Linked DNA regions of Homo sapiens. The protein of the gene in region 2 purifies or fractionates together with the protein of the main gene of each other region. This does not show direct contact. Each region holds a gene or a part of one and is shown on either strand. Other genes may lie near its edges. The genes, in order: CDK8 and TICRR.

The links.
Region 1: the proteins of TICRR (region 2) and CDK8 purify together in Homo sapiens (affinity purification with western blotting; one study listed by BioGRID). This does not show direct contact.

The regions. Positions count from the first base shown.
Region 1 is NC_000013.11:26,347,876-26,351,703, reverse strand, and holds part of CDK8 (cyclin-dependent kinase 8), read right to left. Parts: intron 2,633-3,828; coding exon 2,522-2,632; intron 1-2,521.
Region 2 is NC_000015.10:89,599,167-89,602,994, reverse strand, and holds part of TICRR (treslin), read right to left. Parts: intron 3,672-3,828; coding exon 3,520-3,671; intron 2,411-3,519; coding exon 2,310-2,410; intron 1,698-2,309; coding exon 1,604-1,697; intron 1,507-1,603; coding exon 1,427-1,506; intron 1,259-1,426; coding exon 1,019-1,258; intron 200-1,018; coding exon 103-199; intron 1-102.

The DNA.
Region 1 (3,828 bases), on a different chromosome or scaffold from region 2:
GATGATGATAAAGCTAATGAACTAGTTATATGCACTGTACAATATTACCCACAATAAAATTTGCTGAAGTATAATCATTGTACCTACATGTAAAATTAAATATTACAAACTAGCAGCTAGAAATCACATTGAGTGAAATATTATACTATCTTCTATGCTCTACTGTGGTTTATCACAAATCTTGTTTATAAACCAGCCTGGAAAATGCCTTAAGTTTAAATTATATGACTTTATTTCTTATGAGGCTCAGCATAGTGAGTGTTCAATTTAATACTGGCCACGCTGATTTAACAGGGTTGATCTGATTAGATTTCTTTTAAAATAGAAGAACAGAAGAACCAAAGATTTAAAAAAAAAGAAGAAATTAATAACCAGCATGAACTTTGGAAAGAGTTTCATAAAAGAGAGAAAATTTCATGTATACATAATAAAAAGCATAGCCATGCTAATTTAGTAAATATAGATTAGTATGCAAATCAATACAATGTTTAAAGACATTATTAAATATCATTTAAAAAGCAGTTCACAGGAGTATAGTAATTCTTAATGAATTAACACAAGGTAATGTTAGATGTTTAGTTTACTTGTTTCTTAAACTATAATCTGTATTAACAGATGTTCTCTATACAGATTGATAAGAATGTCAATTTTGTTACTATGTTTCAAAATTACTTTGGCTATCCTATTATAGATTTTCTATATATATATCTCAAAGTTTTATCTGCAAGGTAACGTTTCAGATTTTTAAAAAATATATAAATGTTATATTTAATAAAAGAGCAAATTTTATAGTTACCTTAGAGTTCCTCAAATACCAATTTAAAAAATAATCTGCTTAGTAAACTGCAAAATACTGAGGCTGGTGTTTGTATTTCAGCTACTCAGACAAGATAAAATTAAGTTCTTATTTTACAGTAATTTTTTTCAATATAGCATCATTTTCTGCAATGCATTAGATAAACTAATAAACTGGCTGGGCTCAGTGGCTCAGGCCTGTAATCTCAGCACTTTGGGAGGCCGAGGTGGGCAGATCACCTGACATCAGGAGTTAAGAGACCAGCCTGGCCAACATGGTGAAACCCTGTCTCTACTAAAAATACAAAAATTAGCCGGGCTGGAGTGCAACAGTGCAAACAGGACCCACTGCAGCCTCGACTTCCTGAGCTTCAGCCCCATGAACAGCTGGGACCACAGCATGTGCCACTGAGCCCAGCTAATTTTTTTTATTTTTTGCAGAGACAGGGTCTTGCCATGTGACCCAGGCTTGTCTCAAACACTTTGGCTCAAGTGATCTTCCTGTCTTGGCCTCCCAAAGTGTTGGGACTACAGGTGTGACCCACTACACTTGGCCTAAAACTATTCTTATCATAGGTCAGAAAACAAAGAACTAAAAGTCCCAAGAGATATTAAAATTTATTTTCACACGAATCTTATTTTGTAATAGAGCTCTCATCCACAAAAAATTCCTCCAATGCAAGATTATGCCCAATTCAAGTAAGTACAATACAGTCATGCATCACTTAATGAAGGGATACATTCTGAAAAATGTGTCGTTAGGCAATTTTGCAGTTGTGTAAACATCACAGACTGTACTTACACAAACCTAGATGATAGACTCTACTACAAACCTAGGCTATATGTTATAGCCTCCTGCTCCTAGGCTACAAACCTGTACATGTTACTGTACTGAATAAGGAAGGCAATTGTGACACAATAGTAAATAAGTGTGTTATCTAAACATATGTAAACATAGAAAAGGTACAGTAACAATATGGTACTATAATCTTAGGAGACCACTATCATATATGCAGTCCCTAGTTGACAATAACATTATATGGCGCATGACTATACTGTATTGAACTACTGCCACTGAAAATAAGAATTAGGATATTAAATTCAATTGTGAATAGTTAATAATTAATAACAGTTTCCTACATTTGTATATTTATAAAACTTTTCAAATACAAGATTGTTCCTCAGAAAAACGTTGTTAAAAAAGGCAAGAAAGTATTACATTTTACAGATGGGGTAAACTACAGCTTCAAAGCCATTAAAAGACTTGCTTAATGCTATACGACAAATAATGGTAGAACTATTAGATCTCTCCAAAGATAGCATATTCGTCCTCCTACATGAGGATACCACCTTCTCATTTTATGTTCCCTTTATACAACGAAATAAAAGGAAATATGCTACTTTTCTATTTTAGAGCAAAATTTTATATATATTAGTTACTTTTTATTTTATCAAAAAACTATATGAAGCAATATTGAATAGTTGTTGAACACTCTTTAGATTCTATTGTTTTCTTTAGTATCTGTTAAAAGATCAAAGTGACAATATTGAAAAGTAATAATACAAAGTCAAATACTCTAGCCTTCGTCATGCCACCAACCACACTCTATGAGGTTACTTTTATTTTAAAAACATAAGTCTCATAATAAGCAGAACACCTAACTGTTTTTAGTTACTCTTAACAATCCCTGACTGTTTGCTCATGTCTGCCAGCAATTCACCTTACCCAGAGGTCATGTTCAGCATAGTCAAACAGAAGCCACACCTTCCTATCAGCATGAGACAGAAACACCTTTTGAAGAGAAATGACGTTTGGATGCTTAAGCTCTCGAAGTAACTGCAAAACAAAGGAGATGCATTAACTATTTCTGTCACAAAAATAATGTAAAAAACCCCACACCATTTGTAATTCAAAGGCAATACAAACCCACAGGTAAACAATCTTAAACATCTAATAAGCACCCACACAATTCTGAGACGGATACTTCAGTAACAAATGAGAAGATATCTGTGAGGAAAAGACACTGAACAGGTATTATCTGAGTAAATCTATTTTGTTGTTGTTTGGTTGGTTATTTTAATTTTTTGATTGTGGTAAAATATATCTAACATAAAAAGACCATTTTAATCATTTTTAAGTGTACAATTCAGTGGCATCCTATAAGTATATTCACAATGTTCTGCGATCACCACCACTATCCATTTTAGAATTTTTTTTGTCATCCCAAACAGAAACTCTGAATCCATTAAACCAGCGGTTCCCAACCTTTTTGGCATCAGAAACCATTTTTGAGGAAGACAAATTTTCCACGGATAATGGGGTGGAGGTGCAGGGCGGGGGCTGGGGGAAGGGGCAGATGGTGGATGGTTTCAAGATGAAACCGTTTCACCTCAGATCATTCATTAGGCATTAGATTCTCATAAGGAGCATGCAACCTAGATCCTTCACATGCGCAGTTCACAATAGTGTTCAAGCTCCTATGAGAATCTAATGCCACTGCTAATCTGACAGGAGGCAGAGCTCAGGTGGTAATGCTCGCTTGCCTGTGGCTCACCTCCTGCTGTACGGCCCAATTCCTAACGTACCGGTGCTGACGCAGGGACCCCTGCGTTACACAATAATCCCACCGCCTTTTTCCCCAAGGCTCTGGTAACCTCTACTCTACTATCTGTCCCTAAGAATCTTCCTAATCTAGATATTTCATGTAAGTGGAACCATACAATATGTATCCTTTCATGCCAGGCTTATTTCACTTAGCCTATTTCATTCTTTATGGATAAATATACTCCACTCTATGCATATCTATATATATATCTATATAGATATATATATAGATATCACATTTTGTTTATCCATTCATCTGTTGATGTTCATGGATTGTTTTCACCTCTGGTTATTGTGATTAATGCTGCTATGAACAGTGGTATACACTATCTGATGAAAGTCCCTGCTTTCAATGCTTTGAGCATAAACCTAAAAGTGGAAATCCTGGATCAAATGATTGCTCTGTGTTTAACTTTCTGAGAAACCAC
Region 2 (3,828 bases):
AATATTATTTCTGTATCCTCCAAAGTTCATTTTCCTAAAAGTAGGGACACTGCCTTTTTGTTCTTATTTACTGTGTCATCTCAAGCTGGAAGGTTTACTTACTTTTTTCGTAGCTCTCTTTGACACTTTAGGAATTTCAATTTGTCGAAGATTCTGTGAAACCTCAGCAATGCTTTTATGTCTTATTAATGCATTTTTCCTTTTAAAAATAGAAATAGTTAATACATACTAGATAGAGGTTATATATAGTTAAATTCAAATGGAACTGGAGTCTAAGTAAAATAAAATATGATTTAAATAAAAGCCAGTTATCTTAAGGTTGTTCTGGGTTTATAATAAAACAAGTCACCCCAGAATTTTCAAAAGTAACAAATTCAACCAGTTATGAACAACGAAAAGCATCAAGGGAAATTTAAAAAGCTGAAACTCTAAGCTTATTTCATAGAAGGCCTAGTTTCTGGAGACCTCATGTGGACAGTAAAGAAGACTTTGTGAAATAGGAAATAAACACTATACAGTCATGCAATGTTTCCTTCAATGACGAACTGCATATATGACAATGGTCCCATAGGTTATAATGGAGCCTATATAGAAACCTAATAAATGACACTTGATATTGGCATTACAGATCAAGTAGGGGAAATGACTGCTATTCAGTAACAATGCTGGAACATTAGCTTTTCCATATGAAAAAATATACATAAATGAAAAAATATATACTATCTAGGTTTTGGTAGGCACACTCTGATGTTAGTACAACAAAAATTGCCTAACAATGCATTTCTCAGGATGTATCCCTGTTGTTAAGCAAAACATGACTATATATTTCCTAGATAATATAAAGATTGTCAGATGCTCCTATTAGGAGCTCTAATAGTTGGCTTCTCTGATTCAGACATAAGGGCAGCTATTAGTTCAACAAATTATATGGACAAAGATGACTGGACTGTAGTTTAAACACATCTTTTATCAGAACTATAACAGTGCAAATAATTCCTTTGATTCTTTGACCTCTTACCTTCTCTTCTTGGCTGATCTGGTACGAAGTTCCTGCAGTTCATCAGATTCAGGGCTGCCTGACACTGATCTACGAGCACTTGACAAAAAAGGCACAGAAAGAAGTGGTGATTTGTTCTCTTGTGTCATGGAGTCATCACTGAAAAAATCTGTAGGAAGGACACCAGCCAGCTTCTGAGGAATCACAAACCCTAGGCTGTTGTAAAGATTTCCAAGTGTCTTTGGGATAGAGTCAATATACCTGTGGAACAGATTGATCGAATACGGAACAGTTACCATCTTACCCTCTCTATTCCCTCCCTCACCCAGCCTAAAAAGTAGTCCTTACAACTCCAAAATTCAGAGACAACACCATACATAGGTTTTGACAAAACAATTTTAAAGTTAAGTTAGTAACCATCAAACTTACAATCTCAAAATTTCCTCCAGAAACTCTGCTAGGTACGCTGAATCCTCAGTTAAACACACCATGCGCAGCAAATCTGTCACCTGAAGGAGATTTTAGAACGTTACTATATAGATGCCCTCTGCAGGGAAGCTGAAAGCATCTAGGGCGTATTTCAATGGCACGAAACTATATACTTGCCTCCTCCACTACTTGTTCCATATCATCTGTACTTTCATTTATTGAAGGGCATTGCAGACACATCTCCAAACGAAGAAATACCTGAAGCTGGCACCTTGAGAGAAAAAAATACTTGGTCATATCTACTTTGGATGTCACTAAACAAAAAGCTCCTTCCGTAAGCATAGATCTATTTATATAAGACACAACAACCAAAAAGGAGGAGAGCCAGTGCCTTTTCTAAAAACTGATGTAGTTATTAGATAAATAGGTGATTCAAGCTGCATATTATAACATAAAAAAGAATTGGCTACAAAAGCATCTTCATGCAGTTGGTAATCTTTTTTTTTTTTTTTTTTTTTTTCCTGAGACAGGGTCTTGCTCTGTTGCCCAGGCTAGAGTGCAGTACTGGGATCATAGCTCACAGTAGTCTTGAGCTCCTGGGCTCAAACAATCCTCCAGCTTCAGCATCCCAAGTAGCTAGGGCTACAGGTGTACACCACCATGCTCACCTAATTAAAAAAAATTTTTTGGTAGACACGGTCTCACTATATTGCCCAGGATGGCCTCAAATTCCTGGCTGCAAGCAATCCTCCTGCTTTGGCTTCCCAAGGTACTAGGATTACAGGCATGAGCCACCATGTCACGAACAATCTATTTTAAACTGATACGAGCTAATCTCACAGCTTTTAGAGTGATGATTTTTTAAAAAATGGTAGTTACTTACTCTCTAACTTTGTCTTCCTTATCCAGTTTTTTTCCTAGATTCTGTCGAAGACTTTTACTAGTTTTTAAGAGACTACTTTTTACTTGATTCAGGCAGTTCACCTAAAAATACAAAATTATTACATAGGAGAATAGTGTTACTTGTCATTATTTCTAATTTCTTTCACAGTTGACTAAAGGGAAATATATTCCCTTATAAACTTCTCTATTCTTTCATTTGAATGAAAAAGTGACGTGAATATTCTTCTTTTATATCTTTAAAAAGAACATGGTAAAAGTTATTTTGAGAGCTAGTGGGCATGGATAAAACAAGCCTGCCCTAAATAAAGTGTCTTAAAAGAAACGTTCCATAAAGCAGTGCTTAAGAAACCTAAGTATCATAAACAAATCCTCCTGTTTGCTTTAGAGAAGGAGCTCCGTGATGGCCACTGAACATGAATAAAACAACAACACGGTCTAAAACAGTGGTTTGCAACACTCCCAGTGCAAAAGGATTATCCAGGGGGCTTTTTAAAAGCGCCAACCCCAGAGATCTGTTTCAGTTCATCTGGAGAGAGCAAGGCATATATATATATTCTTTGGAGATGGAGTCTCGCTCCGTTGCCCAGGCTGAAGTGCAATGGTACGATCTTGCCTCACTGCAACCTCCACCTCCCAGGTTAAAACGATTCTCCTGCCTCAGCCTCCCGAGTAGCTGGGATTACAGGCACCTACCACCACATCCAGCTGATTTTTGTATTTTTAGTAGAGACGGGGTTTCACCATGTTGGCCAGGCTGGTCTCAAACTCCTGACCTCGTGATCCACCCACCCTGGCCTCCCAAAGTGCTGGTATTACAGGCGTGAGCCACCACGGTTAGTTGGCATATATATATTTTTTAAATGCTGTAAGTGATTCTAAAGTATAGCCAGGGTTAAAAACCACTGGCTTAATCATGCAGCTAACATATAGCTCACATGAGGAAAGGCTTTTCATTAGGAGAGAATTATATGTAATTATCCCCGCTCACCCCATCTCTTTGATTTCTGCCTTACCAGTTCACCATATCCACCTTCTGAGATCTGGAACTGTACTTACTCCCTTACTTATCTTACCATTTTTGAATCACATATGACATAACAGACATTTTCCAAGACACTAACCAAATCCACCACCAACCAACCAACCAACCACTACATCCATGACAAACAACAATATCTGGACCCTCTTACTTCTAATTCCTTGGTGCCTTTTGATTTTAGGAACATTTTAACGGTTGAGATCATGTTTCGAGCACATGCATACAACATGATTTCTCCTGTGGCCACAGTCTTTTGGTAATTTTCACGTATATATGATAGCAGCTCTTCCTCAGTTTTAAAATCTGAGAAAAAAATAAAATAAAATGGATTAATCATATCTTGCTCAAGTCCTTGTATTACTTAGGCCAGTTGTTGTCCACTGGGGAAAATATTTCCTTGCAGGGAACATTTGGCCTTGTCTGGATTGTCATGACTGATGGTGGTGGGGGCGGGGGTGGC